Linked DNA regions of Homo sapiens. The protein of the gene in region 1 interacts with the protein of each later gene in a biochemical or structural test. Each region holds a gene or a part of one and is shown on either strand. Other genes may lie near its edges. The genes, in order: ST14 and MST1.

What was found.
Region 2: of the proteins of ST14 (region 1) and MST1, one has a biochemical effect on the other in vitro, tested with the Homo sapiens proteins (one study listed by IntAct).

The regions. Positions count from the first base shown.
Region 1 is NC_000011.10:130,166,026-130,169,840, forward strand, and holds part of ST14 (suppressor of tumorigenicity 14 protein), read left to right. Parts: intron 1-3,815. UniProt on the Homo sapiens protein: Exhibits trypsin-like activity as defined by cleavage of synthetic substrates with Arg or Lys as the P1 site. Involved in the terminal differentiation of keratinocytes through prostasin (PRSS8) activation and filaggrin (FLG) processing.
Region 2 is NC_000003.12:49,683,225-49,686,567, forward strand, and holds the end of MST1 (hepatocyte growth factor-like protein isoform 1 precursor), read right to left. Parts: intron 3,258-3,343; coding exon 3,089-3,257; coding exon of another isoform or gene 3,084-3,088; intron 2,969-3,083; coding exon 2,838-2,968; intron 2,739-2,837; coding exon 2,636-2,738; intron 2,509-2,635; coding exon 2,372-2,508; intron 2,283-2,371; coding exon 2,247-2,282; intron 2,159-2,246; coding exon 2,038-2,158; coding exon of another isoform or gene 1,998-2,037; intron 1,866-1,997; coding exon 1,788-1,865; intron 1,732-1,787; exon of another isoform or gene 1,661-1,731; coding exon 1,514-1,660; intron 1,433-1,513; coding exon 1,326-1,432; intron 1,230-1,325; coding exon 1,090-1,229; intron 966-1,089; coding exon 804-965; 3' UTR 723-803; downstream 1-722. Other genes in the region: APEH (acylamino-acid-releasing enzyme), read left to right, coding at 13-118.

The DNA.
Region 1 (3,815 bases):
TGCCAGTGCTGGTGTGCTACAAACATCATAGACCAGCTTGTCTGGTTTCCCCTTTTGATGAGGTTCCTTAGCTGGTGGACCAGGAGCACAGCTGGAGTTGTGATTTCAACATGCTTTACATAGACACAGCTTTATGTATTATACATATGATTAAAAATTATGGCGGAAGTTTTAAAATGAAAACCAATTCACCCACCTCTGCCAACAAATCACTTTTCACGCCTCTTTCCCCTCCTTGCTGTCTATGGTTCAATGTGTCTAGTTGGTTGTTGTGCACACACCACTTGTATCCTGGACAAGGTGTTTTATTGGCCTCCTGTCTGCTGGGTGTGGAGCCCTGGGTGTTGGAGGATCGAAGTTCTGGTAGGCTTGTGTCTGATTGAAAGGCTGTGCCTAAGGGGGGGTCTGTTCTTGAATCCACGTCACTTTGGGTGGTGACCTCAGGCTGCTCGTCACCCCTTCCTGGGTTCTGTGCCATTTCTTATTTAGTAACAGCTCAGATGAGGACTTGGGGCATTTGCCTACCAGCTCCACAGATGACACCAGCTGGGAGGGAAAGGCTGATACCTTGTATGACTTGATTATGAGTCAGAGCATCTGGACAGACTGTCTGATAGGCTGCGCTGAGCAGAATGCATCCGTCTGGGTCAGGAGTCAGTGCTTTGCTCACTGAACCACCTCCCTCAACCATGGAGCAGAAACCACGAGACCCAGAGTTCTGAGTTGACAGTGAGCCCAGGAGAGATCAGGCATGGAAGTGTGACTGCCCAAAGTCGAAGTGTGCTTTCTTCCCCCTATGTTTTTATTTGGTTATACCTTTTAAAGTTATTATTAAAAGTCTAATATATACATATTTAAAGAAAACTTAGCCAACTCAGATAAGTAGTAAGAATTTAAAAATGAGGCCGGGTGCGGTGGTTCATGCCTGTAATCCCAGCACTTTGAGAGGCCAGGGCCGATGGATCACTTGAGGTCAGGAGTTCAAGACTAGCCTGGCCAACATGGTGAAACCCCATCTCCACTAAAAATCCAAAAATTAGCCAGGCATGGCGGTGGGCACCTGTAATCCTAGCTACTCAGGAGACTGAGAGAGGAGAATCACTTGAACCTGGGAGGTGGAGGTTGCAGTGAGCCGAGATCGTGCCATTGCACTCCAGCCTGGGTGACAGAGCGAGACTCTGTCTCAAAAAAAATTTTTTTTAATAAAAATGACACAAATACCCCTACAAAGACATTTTAACAATTTGGTATTGCCTATGCATGTTTTCTAAAAAAATTTTTTTCCTCATTACCACATTTAGGAAGCTTTTCTTTTTGAAGTCACACAATATAGAAATGTACAGTGTAAAATGTGAAACTTCTGAAATTCCCTCTCCCAGATTTTAGAGCCTCTATAAATAGTTTTGTTTATATTCTCCCACAAGTCTTGTGTGTGTGTTCTGCTGTTTGTGTGCACACCTATTCTCCTCCAAATGGAATCATCACTAATTCCACTCTGCAGTAAAGATATGATTTTATTAATGAACTTATCAAACATTTATTAGATATCATACCTCATGCTAGATTTGTGGAGCAAGACAGACCCCCTTCCCTCCCCTATCACAGGAGTCTGGGAGGGAGGTGTTGGAGAGGGATCTCCCAGAATTACTCCAAGGAGATGCCTGAGCTGAATTTCGAAGGGCAGGAGTGACTATTTTTTTTTTTTCTGAGATAGGGTCTTGCTCTGTCGCCTAGGCTGGAGTGCAGTGGCGCGATCTCGGCTCACTGCAACCTCTGCCTCCCGGGTTTGAGCAATTCTCCTGCCTCAGCCTTCCAAGCAGCTGGAATTACAGGTGTGCGCCACTGCGCCAGGCTAATTTTTGTATTTTTAGTAGAGATGGCGGTTTCACCATATGGGCCAGGCTGGTCTTGAATCCTGGCCTCGAGTGGTCTACCTGCCTTGAACTCCCAAAGTGCTGGGATTGCAGGCATGAGCCACCGTGCCCAGCCTATTTTTTTCATTTAACATTCTATCTTAGATAGCTTTTCCATGTCATTATCTACTTTTTGAAAAACGATTTTTGATTGCCTTATAAGCTTTCATCGAGGGAACATATCATTCTTTCCATCTTCTTATTTTAATCGTTTTATTGTTTGGGTGTGTTACTTGAATGCATCATTGGACAATTAATAGAAAAAGAGCAAACAGAATGAGGAAGGTAATTGGCAAGCAGACCCTGTGGAGGCCACGCTAGTCAGACCTCTTGTGGGTTATGCTGGTGAATTCTGGAAACGGTGTCTTCAAGGGAAGATGACTAAGGGTGAGATGGAACCAGATGGCCAGGGTTTAGAAAACATTTTGTTTGAATGATCAGAGGAGTTGAGCATGTTTAGCCAGAGGAGGTGCAGACTGAGAGAGCACACGAGCACCGATGTAGAGCTTCCACTGGAGCGTCTCCTGAGTGGGGAAACTAGGCTGGTTCTGTTGCAGTGCTAATTAGTGCAGAGGTGATTGCAGTGCTGATCACACTTGGTGGAAGGAAGAGCTTCCTAATACTCGTACTAAGGAAAATGCTATTTCTTCCAAAAGGATGGTCTCGCGAGGATGAGAGGTGGGTGACATGCCCTGCAGAATCTGTCTCGGCTCTGAGAATCCAATTTCAAGGGTAGATCCAGCAGTTCTCCCCTCGCTTGTATCCTATTCCCCCAGGATAGAGTCTGGTTCTAATAGAGGACACAGACTTCCTGGTGCCCTCCCCTGGGGGTGGGGCCCCTCTGTTTGCATAGTTGGTCCTTTCCCCAAAACAGGTGCTCAGATTTGTAGCCATGGAAGCGTGTTTTAGAACTTACCCAGTTCTAGAGGCTGCAGGCAGGCTTGGGTTTTTCCCACTAGCTTCTGCAGATCCCTGGGTCCACCAAGTCAGAAACAGACTGTGGCACCTCCATGCCATGAAATATGACTCAGCACTGAAAAGGAACAAGCTGATGGATGCAACAACTTGAAAGACCTCCAGGGAATTTTGTGCAGTTAAAAAAAAAGCCAACAGTCCCATACATACCATATTATTTATTTATATAATATAATGGGTTTTTTTTTTTTTTTTTTTTTTGAGACAGAGTCCTGCTCTGTCCCAGGCTGGAGTACAGCGGTGTGATCTGGGCTCACTGCAACCTCCGCCTCCCTGGTTCAAGCGATTCTCCTGCCTCAGCCTCCCGAGTAGCTGGGACTACAGGTGTGTGCCACCACACCCAGCTAATTTTTGTATTTTTAGTAGAGACAGGGTTTCGCCATGTTGGCCAGACTGGTCTTGAAATCCTGACCTCAGGTGATCCACCCGCCTTGGCCTTCCAAAGTGCTGGGATTACAGGCATGAGCCACCACGCCTGGCCTATATAACATAATTTTTGAAATGACACCATGTTAGTAGTAGAGGACAGATTAGCGATTGTGGAGCTGAAGGGGTGGGGGACAGGAGGGAGGTGGCTGTGGTTACAGAAGGCCATGGGCATCCTCGTGTTGGAGCTGTTCAGAATGTTGACTGTGATGCCAGAGACAGGGGACTACGCTAGCGATGACATAGATGGAACTTAATACTTAACGTGAGTAGCGGTGAAACGGGAAGTCTGAATAAGATCCGCGGATGATACTGCTGTTGTGGTATTATGATACAGTTTTATGAGGTGTGACTATTGGGAGAAACTGGGCAAGGATCTCAGTATGATTTCCTACAACTGTATGGGAATCTACAAGTATCTCCATAAAAATGTCAGTAATGAAAGGCACACTAGCTCGTGAAATCAGAATGTGGATTTAATAAAAAGTCAAGAAAACGAAT
Region 2 (3,343 bases), on another chromosome or scaffold:
TAATCCCTACAGGCTCCTGCTCTATCCCAAAAGCACCCACGCATTATCAGAGGTGGAGGTGGAGTCAGACAGCTTCATGAATGCTGTGCTCTGGCTACGCACACACTTGGGCAGCTGAAGCCCTGCCATTCTGCATGAGCTGATCAGCCTGTGCCACACTTCGCTCTTGAGGAGCTCAACGGTCTGGCAGGGCAGCAGGAGGCTTTCTGGGCTCTGGACTCCACGGATGCGTGGGCAGAGGAATGTGGGCTATGTAGTCATAATAAATTAGGACACAGAGCCTGGTTCCTGCTGGTACTTTGTACCAAACCATCCCCAACCCCACCTCCCACTCTGGGGTGCAGAGACCCTAGGTTCTGGGTGTGGCAGCCACAAGGGCTTCATCTGCCTCCAGTGTGAGAAGGGAGGGAACAGTGAGAGGCTTAGCCTCTGCCTGTCCTGGCAACCAGGACTCTGTACCAGCCTAGCTTCCCTGCTGCAGCCCCTTCCATTAGCAACTACTCTGTACCACCCTTCCCAAGAGTATGTCTGGAGGACTAGTGTGAGGCCCTGTCTTTCCACGGCACCCATGGGCAAAAGTAGTCCCAGGGACATTGCCTTGGTTGGGGAAGCCCCTAGGCTGGACAGATCACCTAGCCCAGGGTGTGCTGGGCTCAAGCCACCCGAGCCCTAGCAAGGAGTCACTGACACATTTCCTGGAAGCAAAGGCTAAGAAGCATCTGTACAGGCATAAAGAGGAAACATGGCTTTATGTCTGACAAGAAGTTTTGTCCTCCCCAAGGCATATGGCATCAAGGCTGGGCCTAACCCAGTCTCATGACCTTGTGAATCCAGTCCACAAACACAGAGACACGCGTGAAGACAGCTGGCCAGCGGGACCTTGCGCATACTCGGTTGGGGATTATAATTCCTTCCAGGACCCAGCAGTTGTGGGTAAAGCAGGCAAGTGGGCCCCCGTAGTCACCCTGGCAGGTAGGAGAACTGATGAGGGCCCCGGGCCACAGCAATGACTAGCCTGCTTCATGATAAAATAGTTCATTTCTAGCCCCCCATACCCTTCCAGGGCTGGCCCAGGGCCCTGCCACCAACCTCACAGGCCCCCACAGGGGCCAACAGTCCCTCAGTGCACATCTCACTCTCCCGCACACGTCCTCGGTGCTTGATGTTACACTCCTGGTTGGAGATGACATTCAGCAAGGCCACATTTAGGACTGTGTCATTACCCGTACCTGCAGTGAGGGGAATGGGGAGAGGGAGAGGGTCCTGCAGGAAGATCCAGGGCTGGGCCTCCTGGCCACCAGCAGTCCTGTGCACTGTGCTCTTACCTTTGGTCTCACCCCAGCCTGCAATCTCACACTTGGTCCCTGGAGGCACCACATACCATTCAGGGGGCAGGCAGATCAGGGCCACACGCTGGTTCAGGGTCACAGATCTTTAGCAAGAATGGGGGCACTCAGGGTCTGAGGCCACAAGGCCCAGCCCCACCTCACACCCTCCCAGGTTGTCCACATACCTCTCCAGCTTGAGCAGGACAAGCTGGGAGCCTGAGGGCCCACACACCATCTTGGCTACTGGGACCCGCTGTAGGCTTGGCTCTCCATGCTGTGGGTTCTGGAACAGGGTGCCCAACCATACCTCATAGCCCGTGAGAGGCATATGGCTGGGAGAGAAGCTCTGCTAGGTCATTTGTGACTCTCAGTCCATTGCCCCAAGGCTCACTTGTTAGCTTGCCTGGGGAAGGGGGAAGGTGGGATGAGACTGGGTCCCCAAACACAAGGGAGGCTCACCAGGAGGAGAAGCACTGCCGGGCAGTCAGTATCCACTGCTCCTTCACTAGAGACCCCCCGCAGAAATGCTGGCCCTGCCTAGAGGAGTGGGGAATTAGGACAGGTAACAGACTCCTGGGACAGATGCTAGACCTGCCATCTTCTGGCTAGGACCTCTGGGGGCAGGGATAGATTCCCAGCCCCCAGTGGGATAACCACAGAGGACACAACCTCAGCTCCTCTCTGTGGGAGACAGGCAGTTGTGCCTCACCGATTCCGCAAGCTGACTGTCCAGGGTGAGTTGCCCGGATGGCCCCCAACCACGCGCAGCTTGGAACGCCGCTGATCCAGCCGATCCACCCTCTTGCCACACTTCTCAAACTGCACCTGGTCTGTAGGATGGGGTGGGCTGGATGAAACCCAGACTGTGTGGATGTCGTGGGCTAAAGGGCCTGACCCATAACTGGCCCAACTCCTAACCTGGGGGGTCCAGGATTGATGGCGGCTGGTCATCAGCTGAAAGACAAAGTTCACTGGGGTTAAGGGAGCCAGCCTTTGGGTGGGGGCTGAGGCAGGGTCATGGGGGAAGCGTCACTAGTGCTCACCGCAGCGTCGCAGGGCACAGTAGTCGAATGGGGTCCTTGGGTCCATCGTGTAGCACCAGGGCCCATGGCTATCCCCATCTGGGTTCCGGCAGAAGTTCTCCTCCAGTTGTGCATGCGGTTCGGAGGTAAACGTGAACCTAGGCGGAAGCGGGAGCAAAATCGTGGCAGGGTAGTCTCAACCATTTCCAGGCTCTGGTCCCAGACACCAAAGCATGCCGCCCCAGGGTTAGGGCCCTGGCGGGGCCGGGAGCACCAGGGACTCACTGCGGCTTGTGCGGCGTCTCAGCGGACCAGCGCTGGCACTGGACACCCTTGCGGGTCTTGCTGACCGTGCCGCGGTACTGCTCCCCTGCGCCGTGGTAGCAGTCTGTGGCGGGTGCGGGCAGCCATCAGGCCGAGACCTCGCCCCGGCCCTCCGGTTCCAGGCTTCCAGCCCGGCTCTGTAGCCCCCAAGCTTGGGCCTCACCCTGGGGCCGCACGTCGTCTGTACAACGCCGGATCTGGTAGCAAAAGGCCGCGCGCATGCCGGGCCGCAGTGTGAAGCACCAGGGCGCCTCTGAGCCGTCGGGGTTCCGGCAGAAGTTCTCCCGAAGGTCTCTAAGCAGGCGCTCCACTCAGCCCTAGCCCGCCAGCCTCCAGCCTTGAGCCCGTGACTACCTTCCTCCCGTCTCACCCGCAGCAGCACGTCCCAACGCCCGCCCCCCCCCCCCACCTCACTTGCACGCGTATTTTTCTGGCGTAAATCGGTGCTGATGCGGGATTTGCGCGTCCCAACGCTGGCAAGGTACGCCCGCAGTGGTGGTATTGGCTGTGCCCCGGTAGCCCTCACCCTTCCCGCGGAAGCAGCTGACAGTTGTGGCCTCTTGGCGGGGCTGTGCCTCGGACCCTTAGATGGACCGAGATAGGTCGGGCCCCGAGCGAGAGCTGAGATCCCTCTGGGGCTGGGACCAAACCCGCCTTTCCCAGGTGTAC